Regions from separate parts of the Homo sapiens genome. Here region 2 is linked to region 1. The links come from fine-mapping of genetic effects on gene expression. Tissue or cell type: whole blood. Region 1 holds a variant in brackets; the other region holds the start of a gene. Each region is shown on its reference strand, or each on the opposite one. Region 1 overlaps ZNF560 (zinc finger protein 560). Region 2 holds the start of PAX8 (paired box 8).

Region 1 (5,373 bases):
ACATCTGGTTGGATCCAGATAAGAAACATGATCTTAAACCCCACTATGATTTGGATGTGGTCTGTCCCCATCACAACTCCTGTTGAGGCTTGGTCCTCAATATCACAGCACTGGAAGGAGGGGCCTAATGAGATGTTTGGGTCATGGGGGTAGATCTCACATAAATAGATTAATGCTACCAGGCAGAAGTGAATTTTAGCTCACACAGGACTGAATTAGTTCCCACAGGAGCTAACTGTTATAAAGCAAGGCTGCTGTTTGTGTTTGGTCCCTTTTGCACAAGCCTGCTTCCTCTTCTGCCTCTCTACCATGTTTTGCCGCAACACGTGAGCCTCATCAGAAGTAGAGCAGATGCTGGGGCCATGCTCTTAGACTTTCCAACCAGCAGAATCCTGAGCCAAAGAAACCTCTTTTCTTTATAAATTACTCAGGTATTATGTCATAGCAATAATAAAGAGACTAACACAACCTAAGACACTTTGAGCCTCCCTTACCAGGGACGTAGCTTACCCTTTGGTTTCTGAGGAGAAAGCCTTCTGCTTGAAATTTTTGTGACAATCTCATTTGGTCCAGATACCTTGGAAGGTAATATATATTCTCCTCAAGATCCACACCATTATCACTTATTTTTATCACTAGAGTCCTAACTAGTCCAAAATCCAGGGAGAAAGATATACAACATAATGCAAGAGAAAAAAGCTCACACAACAAAAAAATTCCAACTCTGATAATATATCACAAGAAACCCAGGGAACATGTATGGGATGGATTCTAAGGGTATTAGATCAAGAAGGTTAAAATGTTAACATTAGATAGGCCCAAATTCATTGATATGGAGCACTGATATGGTTTGGATCTGTGTCCCCACCAAATCTCATGTGGAACTGTAGTCCCCAGTGTTGGAGGTGAGGTCTGGTGGGAGATGATTGGATCATGGGGGCAGATTTCTCATGAATGGTTTAGCACCATCTCCTTTGATACTGTCCTCATGATCTGGTCATTTAAAAGTGTACAGCACCTCCCCCTCATTCTCCCTTGCTCCTGGCTCCTGCCATATAAGATGTACCTACTCCTGCTTCACCTTCTGCCATGACTGGAAGCTTCCAGAGGCCTCCCCAGAGGCAGAAGTCACTATGCTTCCTGTACAGCCTGCAGAACTGTGAGCCAATTAAACTTTTTTTATTCTGCAATTTAAAACTTTTAATTAAAAAATAAACTTTAATGTTGAAAATGCAAACTTGGAGAGGGCAGAAAGATCACACACAAGGCTGTCACTTCACACTTGGAGGTTTGCACAGTGGCTCGACAGAGGTGCTCCTCACTTCCCAGACAGTGGGGCGGCCAGGCAGAGGCGCTCCTCGCTTCCCAGACAGTGCGGCGGCCGGTTAGAGGCACTCCTCACTTCCTAGACACTGCAGTGGCCAGACAGAGTCGCTCCTCACTTCCCAGACAGGGTGGTGGCCAGGCAGAGGTGCTCCTCACTTCCCAGACGGTGTGGTGGCTGAGCAGAGGCGCTCCTCACTTCCCAGACGGTAGGCAGCTGAGCAGAGATGCTCCTCACTTTCCAGACAGTGGGGCTGCCGGGCAGAGGTGCTCATCACTTGTCAGACAGGGCGGTGGCCAGGCAGAGGTGCTCTTCACTTCCCAGACAGTTGGGTGGCCGGGAACTTCTTTATAAATTACCCAGTCTCATGTATTTTTTTTTTTTTGAGACATGTCACCCAGGCTGGAGTGCAGTGGCGTGACCTCGGCTCACCGCAAGCTCCGCCTCCTAGGTTCACACCATTCTCCTGCCTCAGCCTTCTGAGTAGCTGGGACTACAGGCAGCTGCCACCACGCCCAGCTAATTTTTTTGTATTTTCAGTAGAGACAGGGTTTCACTGTGTTAGCCAGGATGGTCTCAATCTCCTGACCTCATGATCCGCCCACCTCAGCCTCCCAAAGTGCTGGGATTACAGGTGTGAGCCACTGCACCCGGCCAGTCTCTTGTATTTCTTTATAGCAATGTGAGAATAGCCTAATACAGGTACTTACTAGACATTTTGAATTTTACATATTAGCTAATGGACCATGGCATGATTCTAATAGCTAAACTGGTTGGATGATTGAAACTTGTACTCATGACCTAGTTAACAGAGTTAATATGTAAGAGCTTCCCTGGCTAATGTAAAGGAGGGAATCCTAGACACACAGGAAGGTTGCACTGAATTTATCACATGTGATCTGCACAGCTTCCCTTCTTCAACCTACATTAAGGGCCCAGAAGACACCCTCTTCACAAAGGCATTCAGAAATAGATAACTGAAGGGAATACTTCCATTCTTGAAAAGTTCTGTTTATTCTCCTTTAAACATTTGTTAAGACTACAGGAGATAACAATCATTAAGATGAGTTCCCTGTTTCAATGGGGATGATGAGAACCTTGAGTGCCAAAAACCAAGTGGGTAGCACTTAACTATCAAAGACAATGAGGCCACATCGAATGTCAAGGGCACACTGAATGTACCAATAATTGGAATGCTTTGGCCTGCAGAGATTATTGGTGTTAGCAAACTGATCACATTTCGTC[A/C]CTAGCATGAAACAGATAAGAACCCTACTATAACAGGGATTAATAAATCTTGTTGTAATGTGACATATAGTAAATGTTATACTCTGTGGGCCACACAGTCTCTGTTACAAATACTCAACTCTGTCCTTGTAGTATGAAAGAAGCCTCAGAAAATATATAAACAAATGAACATAGTTGTTCTGTTCCAATTATAATTTACAAAAACAGGTTGAAGATTAGGTGTGTCCCATAAGCCACAGTTTGCCAATGTAAGTCTTGGAATATTGCTTGATCTATGTAACAAGAAGTCTCAAGTCTAATGGCCAAAAACCTGATAAGAGTCACCACAGGGGAGATTCAAAGTCTCTCACCCAATCACCAGACCTAGGTAACACACCACTCAGGATTGTGCAGAAGTCACATCGACTTTGGAGAATTACGGGGGACTATCATAACTTATATCAATTCTCCTGTTTTCCACCGAAATAGTCTTCAGAGGTTTTGCTATTACACAAAACATTGCAACACTCCATCACATTGAAAATATTTTGTACATGATATCCCATGAACAGGAAACAGTAAATAGTTTGGATACCTTTACAGGCTACAAAGTAGAGGATGGGAGATTCAAGAGCCAGCTAAATAAACAAAGTTGGTTTTGTTTTGTTTTTTTGAGACAGGGTCTTGCTCTGTTGCCCAGGCTGGAGTGCAGTGGTGTGATCACGGCTCACCACAACCTCCACCTTCTAGGCTCAAGTGATCCTCCCACCTCAGCCTCCCAAGCATCTGGGACGACAGGTGCACATTACTACACCAGGTAATTTTTTTTCTTTTAATCTTTTTTGGTATAGATGGGATCTCACTATGTTGGCCAGGCTGGTCTCGAACTCCTGGCCTCAAGCAATCTGCCTGCCTTGGCCTCCCAAAGTGTTAGAGTTACAGGCCTGAGCCACCATGCCCCATCCAATCAACAAAGATTTGTGGGTTCAGTTGTCTAGACCATATCAAGATATCCCCTCCAAGGTGTCATTCCTAGTTAGTGCTCCCCAAAATTAGGTGCAACACTTGGCAGACCTATAAGATTCTTGGCCAGGCATGGTGGCTCACACCTGTAATCCCAGCACTTTGGGAGGCTGAGGCTGGCAGATCATGAGGTCAGGAGATTGAGACTATCCTGGCTAACATGGTGAAACCCCATCTCTACTAAAAATACAAAAAATTAGCTGGGTGTGGTGGCACGCGTCTGTAGTCCCAGCTACTCAGGAGGCTGAGACAGGAGAATCGCTTGGACCTGGGAGGCAGAGGTTGCAGTGAGCCGAGATCCTGCCACTGCACTCCAGCCTGGGCGACAGAGCGAGACTCCGTCTCAAAAAAAAAAAAAAAAAAAACAGGGATAAAGGCTACTATGGCTCAACAGTATGGACTTCCATTTACCAAAGCTAATGCAGCTAATGCTACTGCTAGGTGCCTAATCTGCTAAAAGCAAAAACCAAAACTGAATATATAAGGGCATTAATTTCTTTTTTCTTTTCTTTTGGGGGGGGGACAGGTCTCACTCTGTCACCCAGGCTGGAGTGCAGTGGCATGATCACAGCTCACTGCAGCCTCAATCTCCTGGGCTCAAGCAATCTTTCTGCCTCATGCTCCTGAGTAGCTAGGACTACAGGCATGTATCATCAAGCCTGGCTAATCTGGGTGGTTTTCGTAGGGGGGTTGATTTTTTGTTTTCATAGAGATGGGGTTTCACCATGTTGCCCAGGTTAGTCTTGAACCAAGGGCATTAATTTCTAGAGTAACCAGGGGAGCCAGCTGGTGGCAAGATGATTACATTGGACCACTCCTATCATGAAGGTGACTAAGATTCATCTTCACTGGAATAGACTCGTGTTCTGGATATGGATTTGCCAGAAGCCTAACTAGTAGAGAGGCAAATCCATATAGGATTTGTATAGAGGCAGATTTGTACAGAGGAGAGGCAAATCCACTAGGCTTTTGCCTATACAATGCATAATCCATGCACTCACAAAATGCTTTCACTGCAGTCACAGCATTCACACAATACCATCTTTCATCAAGGAACCCATTTCACTGCAAAGGAAGTGCAACAGTGGGAACATGTCCCTCTCATCAGCTGGTCTCATCACACACCCCATCACTCAGAAGCAGCTAGTCTAAATGAAAGGTGAAATAGCTTACTGAAAATTCAGATACAGGGCCAACTGGGAGACAACCTCTGAAAGAATGGGATTCTGTTTCACAAGACACAGTGTATGCTCTGAATCAGAGATCACTAGATACTACTATCTCACCACAGTCAGAACAAACAGGCCCAGGAATTGATGGGTGAAGGCAGAATTAGCTCTAAGACAAAAATTTTGCTTCCAATCCCAGCAATGTAGAGCACTGTAATTTGGAGATCTGAGTCCATAATGGGGAATGCTTCCCCAGGGGCAACTATTTATTTGGTCCCAATACACTGGAAAGTGAGATTAACATCTGGCCCTTATAAGTTTCATATCCATTAAACCAAGAAGAAAAAGAAAAATAAGGAGGTGAGAGGGTATAATCTATTAACTGAAGGGATTAATCTCAACTACCAAAGGGAAACTGGGGTACTACTATACAACTGAGGCAAAAAGAATGATGTCTAGAACCTCCTAGCACTTCCATACCACTTAGAAAGGTTAACAAAAAATTACCGTAGAAAAAAGGCAGGAAAATGGAGGACCAAGATCCCTTCAGAAGGAAGGTTTGAGTCACTCCATCAGGTACAGAGCCCAGAGCTGCTGATTCTGGCTGAGGGCAAGGAAAATACAAAAAATGTT
Region 2 (5,373 bases), not on the chromosome of region 1:
CTGGGGAAAAGGGGGAACCTGCTAAAACCCGAGAGATAATGGGCTTGTAAAAACCAGAGGGGTCCGCTTATGAGTTTAGCTCCGGTTATAGACAACAGTGTCAGGTAAGCTGATCAGAAAGACAGACGGCCTCTCCCTCAGGTTTGCCGAGGGAGGGTTCAGAAAAGAAACAGGGAGCGCCTTCAGCAGTCTATGCGGTTATAGGCCATTTTCTTGTTTTATTAGCGTTTAAATTAAACTATGAGAAGAAAGTCTCATCTTCCCTCCCTCGCCACTTTGTCTATTTGTTTTGGAAAGAGGGTAGAAGAAGCCCCTCTGTCTTCCCGAAAAGAAGAAAGGGGAAAAAAATTACCTGGTAGGTCCAGGGGCAGAGGGCTCCCTCCCAAAACCCAAGCGCGATTTGCATCCAAGCTAGTGGGAAAGCGCGCATCTCATCATCTGGGACTGTTCCTGATTAAAACTACAGTAAAAATAAATTGTGCCTTTATTTATTCTTTCCATACTCTATTTCCATCTATTCTAACGAGTACTTCTAGAATGAAAATAAGTAGCCGCGAAAAAAAAAAAAAGCTCATCTGAGGGACGGGGACATCGTCTCATTTCTTGGGCAGCGGCAGAGAGTAAGGGTCCAGCCCGGCCACAGTGAATTTGATTTCCGAGAGCACTCACTCCTCCTGCCACCGCCGGAAGGGTCAGGGGAAGGTTAGGAGGAAAGATGGACCTCCAGAGCCGAGCAGAAGTGCCATTGCACCAGCTTGGCGCAGAAGTGCCATTGCACCAGCTTGGCATGGGCACCGGGCACTGCACATTAGGCCTCAGGGATGGTCCTGGCGATGTCTGGTATCGTACCACGGTTTGGCTAAAGATTAAGGGACTAAAACCTGATCCTGACCTTAGATAGTGGCCTAGGAGCGCTCGTGGTTCCAGGACGCGGACCGTAAAGAGGTGCCAGGGAGCTCTGCTCGGTCCCAGGGCTCCCCAACCCCGCCGCGCCGGGGAATGGCTGCGAGGTCTCTCCCCTGAGGACCTTGAAGGGACCCCGCGCCTTCTGGGGGCAGCCGGACGATTCTGGCCCAGGTCTCTGAGGGGAATGGGGGCCGGGAGGGAGCATTCGTCTGCAGCTCTAGAGAGAACCCGAGTGAGAAATCTTCCGGCGCCCCAGGGGGTTCCCGCTCCCCTCCTAGTTGGGCCATGGCCCTGGGACTGGAGACTGCGCCGCAGAGCCCGGGCCCCCGCAGTGCGCTTGGCTAAATAGAGATCTCAGCCTCGCTGCGCGCCCGATCCGACCCTCCTTATTATAACAAATGTCCCGTTTGCAGAGCGGGACATCATATTCGCGGAGAATTCATTCTGAAATATTGATTTCCTCTCACTTCGCCGGCCCAAATCGATAGCGATGCGCCCTGGCCCCATAAATCGCCTTCTCTGCGGCCGGCCGGGCTCCATCCATCACTGCGGGCCGCGCTGCGCCTCCACCGCTGTCCGCACTCGCTGCGCGCCGGGACGGCTGCGCCCACCAGCCCTGACCCTGGAGCTCCTTCCCAGCAAAGACCCTGCCCAGCCCTGGCCGGGAAGGGGGAAAACAGGCATCGCGGCCTGGGAGCTCGAGTGTGTTTGAAGGCCCTGCTTCCGGGCGCAGGTGGGGAGGGGGTTTTGACTCCGCGAGCGGCTTAGTCCTCACCAGCCGGACGCCCCGCGCGCGGCGCCCGGCCTGCCCGGTGCTGGGCCAGGAGGAGTCGGAGAGCACCTGAGTGCGCTGCCGGCTCCCGGGCCCGGGACCACCGGCTCCATTGCCGTTGGCTTGAGAGATGCGGGGAGCTCACAGTCCAGCCAGGGGAGTCACTGGGAAGGACTGCGCGCACCCGAGGAAGAGGACTTAGAGGTCGGGGACGGGGAAACGGCAAGTCCAGCACCGGTGCAGCCCAGGGACAGAGCACGAAGAATGTCCACACTAATGCGCCATGCAAGGCTGGGAATGGAGCTCAAAGGAAACCCCCTCTAACTCCACAGAGATCCCCTCACCGATCCATGTGGTCCCTCGAAACCGGGCAAGGGCGGCTCAGCTGGCCGGGTGGAACCCCAGTGCCCGAGAACAGCGAGGCGGCTCCAGCGGAGGGCCAGGCCCCAGGCGCCCCAGCTGGGTCCCCACGCGGGTGGGTCCCGCGAATCCCGTGCTGACGCTCTCGAGATCCAACCACCCGAGCGCACGCACGGACGCTCAGCGGCGCGGGGGCTCGGGGATCCTGACCACACCGCGTTCTTACCAGATCTGATGGAGTTGTGAGGCATCGCCGGGGAGTCGCTCGCAGCCCGCCGAGGGCTCGGGGCTTCCTCCCGTAGGTCCGGGCCGCGCCTGCCGCTGCCCTGCACAAACCCAGGAGAAGGGCATGAGATGCGATGAGATTCGATGCCTGCATCCTCAGGCCCCCTCCCCAGGCCTCATCCTTTACACCTGCATCGTCTGCCAGGAGTAGGAGGATTTTTAGGCGAAGTAGGGCCAACCTCAGCCTAGCCTAGCTAACAGGCTTCCCGGGAGGATCAAGGATTGGGAGTGCGCTGAAGAAGCTCCAGACTCCAACCTCCGTGCCCACTCCCTCCGCTGTCCCAGTCTTATCCCGTTTAACTTGGGAGGGAAAAGGCTGCCAGGCATCCTGGGACCCTCTCCTTTCTTCCATCCCCCGTCCTCACTGCTAGCCAGCTTCCAGCTAACCCCTGGGTGACATACCTGGCCGGCCGGCTGCAGGCCCTCACTGCTTGGGTCCGCCCGCGAGGGTGCCCTGGGCCCGGTGTCTCTCCTCCTTCTGAAGTTTGTTCCCATCCACCCGGCATCACCGACCGGTTTTATCCCGCTGAGGCCCTGGGAGATGGGTCTGGCGAGGCTCGTAGGCCGCGGATTGGCTGGCTGGGTGCAGGGGGGTGCGGGAAGGGGAGGATTTTGCAAGGGGGACATGGCTGAGTGGACTCAGGAGTTAGAAACATTCGCTGGGAGCTTCTGTTTCCAGCGGAGGGAAGAGGGAGGCAGCTGAGCCCTAACTCAGCAGGCCTGGAAATATTGGAGGAGTGGGGAACAGAGGCCTAGGAGCCTGAGGATGAGGTTCTCTGGGTCCTCCTGGGTCACTGACCACCAGAAGTGAGAGGGATGGTCTCTGTAGGATGCCCTCCTTGCCCCCTGTCTCCCCTGGTTTGCTCACCAGGAAGCAGCCTTTTCTTTTGTAAAAGGAAGGAGGGAACTTCTGTTTTATGCCTGATTCTTTAGGTAGAGCCTGCTTTCGGGGCTGTAGGCAAGATGCTATTACCTTCTCACCACAGCTATGACCTCTTCCAGGGAAGAATCCTGAGCAGCACCTGAAGCCATTCCCTCTGTTCTACACAGATAGCGTTCACACCCTTGCATTGTCAGGCTAACAAAATTGTCACATAACCCATTCCACAGCAACTCCTCGCCTCTCTCCTCTGGAACACACACGCAGCCACCTGCCCTCTTTCTTGCTCCTTGAGGATTTTGAACTTGGAAGAAGAGTTCAGGGGAAGGGCATTGAGGGCCTAGACTTCATCTCTGTGTGGAAAGGCCTTAGAAAGGAACAGGACTGAGCTGACCTCTGGCCTGGTCTGTAGGAATCAATAGCCTCAGCAATATGGGGGCCTGGGTGTGGTTAAGAAGGGGTCCACTGGTGGGAATGATGGCAGGGTTGGTGAGCCCTGGGACCGAGCAGAGCTGCCTGGCACCTCTTTACCTTAGTGATGGCAAAAGCTGCCCCCTCCTTCCTCATAGTTCTCTCAGTCGGGGAACCGGGGTACACGTAAGATTGTGAGTGGGTATGAGTGAGCAAATGTCCTGGAACACTGGCAGGCCTGGGGGTCAAGGCCTGGATGCTCCTCCAATCTTTGGCCAGACCTCTGGACTCAGGATTACAGTCTAGAGGACAGCCATGCCCTTTTCAGTGATGGCTCTGCAGGCCTGGTGGGGTTGTTCTGGGACAGGAGGCTAAGAAGCCAGTGGGAGGGGGGCAAGGAAGGTGCAGGGGAAACTGGGATATTCAGGGGGATTGGATGTGTGTGTGTGTGTGTGTGTGTGTGTGTGTATGCACATATGTACACGTGTGTGAAAACACATGAACTATTTTTCTGAATTAAAAAAGTTTTCTCTTTCATGTCAATCCACAACCTCCTTCCACCCAGTCTTTCTCATTTCTCAATTTAGGAGAAATGAATCATCTTGTGAAAAAAGAGAGAAGAAGATGTGTATCCCTACATGTTTCCTCCACATTTGCAAAGAGGGGCTGTAAACAAAAATAGTTGGTGCTTCATCATTTTAAATCTTTCTCTAAAATTGTAATTTTAAATATCTCTGTGGTTTTCAAAGCTCCAGATCCCTAACTTCTCTGGCAGTCCCTCCCAGAGAGAGACAATCCAAGGGTGTTGGGATGGAAATGGATCTTGGCATAGGTCCTCCGGACCCCATGGGCCAGTTTGCTGCCCTGGATTGTGTCCTGCTGCAGGGGAGGTGTGGAGTGTGGCAGCCACAGCAGAAACTCTCTTTGTCCACCCAGGATTCCCTCCCACCAGGGAGGCAATGCTCCAGGGTGAATCTAATACGCCCTCATTTCAAACAGCTCTGACAACCTTAGAGATTCTACCCAATCTAAGGTTCTGATACGTACCAATAACCATTGACTCTCATGCAATCATTCTTGCCTGTGCACATCTTTTCTGCCCAAGCAATGAACCCTCTCCCTTTCCTATCCCCTTTTTGGGCAAAATTTCTTAGAGGACAAATCCAGCAAGTTATCAGAACATTCCTGTCCCATGTATAAATTTATCTTTAAAATTTCATTTCAAGGTAAAAACAATGTGCACTGTTCAAGGTTACTCCTCAGGGAAAAACACACCCCACACCTTGACAGTACCTCTTCTCCAGACTGCAGGTGACATAGCAGGTGACCAGAAGACTCAGCAGAGAAGATCTAGGACGAGCAAGAAGTGAGAATGCAGTGAACTTCTGCTGCAGAGATAAACACAGGCCTCCTGGACTGACCCTGCTTCTAATTAGAATCAGAAATCAGGCCTGGGTTCCTTGGTACTTCCTAATTCTCTGAGACCAAGGCCAAGGAAATGTCATTAACTGGTGCTTTAACTCTGTCTCTTTGGCATCAGTCTCCTCCTCTGCAAAACGAAAGGTTTGAAATACATATATTTTTAAAATCACCTATTATCACAGTATTTTTTCAAACTTAAAATCCATGATGCTTTTAGTTAAGAATAAAAATCATATGCCTTCCTATGATGATATTTGAAATTTTAAAATAAATTTGCACTGTGACTAATAGACTTTCAATGGGACTTTTAGAACTCTTTTTTTTTTCTTCTAGACTT

The links. PIP is the estimated chance that this variant, and not a neighbour inherited with it, causes the effect. A credible set is the group of variants that fine-mapping cannot tell apart.
Region 2: PAX8 starts here. The variant in region 1 is the best candidate, but not a certain one, in a credible set for the expression of PAX8 in whole blood (TOPMed, PIP 0.85).

Annotation. Positions count from the first base shown.
Region 1 is chr19:9,487,910-9,493,282 of GRCh38, forward strand. The region is part of intron 2 of ZNF560 (zinc finger protein 560); the gene reads right to left. Among named protein-coding and RNA genes, the nearest start is that of ZNF560, 8.0 kb to the right of the region's middle. The variant A/C (reference allele first, on the strand shown) is at 2,570.
Region 2 is chr2:113,276,106-113,281,478 of GRCh38, forward strand. PAX8 (paired box 8) reads right to left here and starts at 2,816. Exons shown (of 12, transcript NM_003466.4): 1 at 2,726-2,816; 2 at 2,265-2,364. The coding sequence starts at 2,289. RefSeq lists a promoter at 2,289-3,418.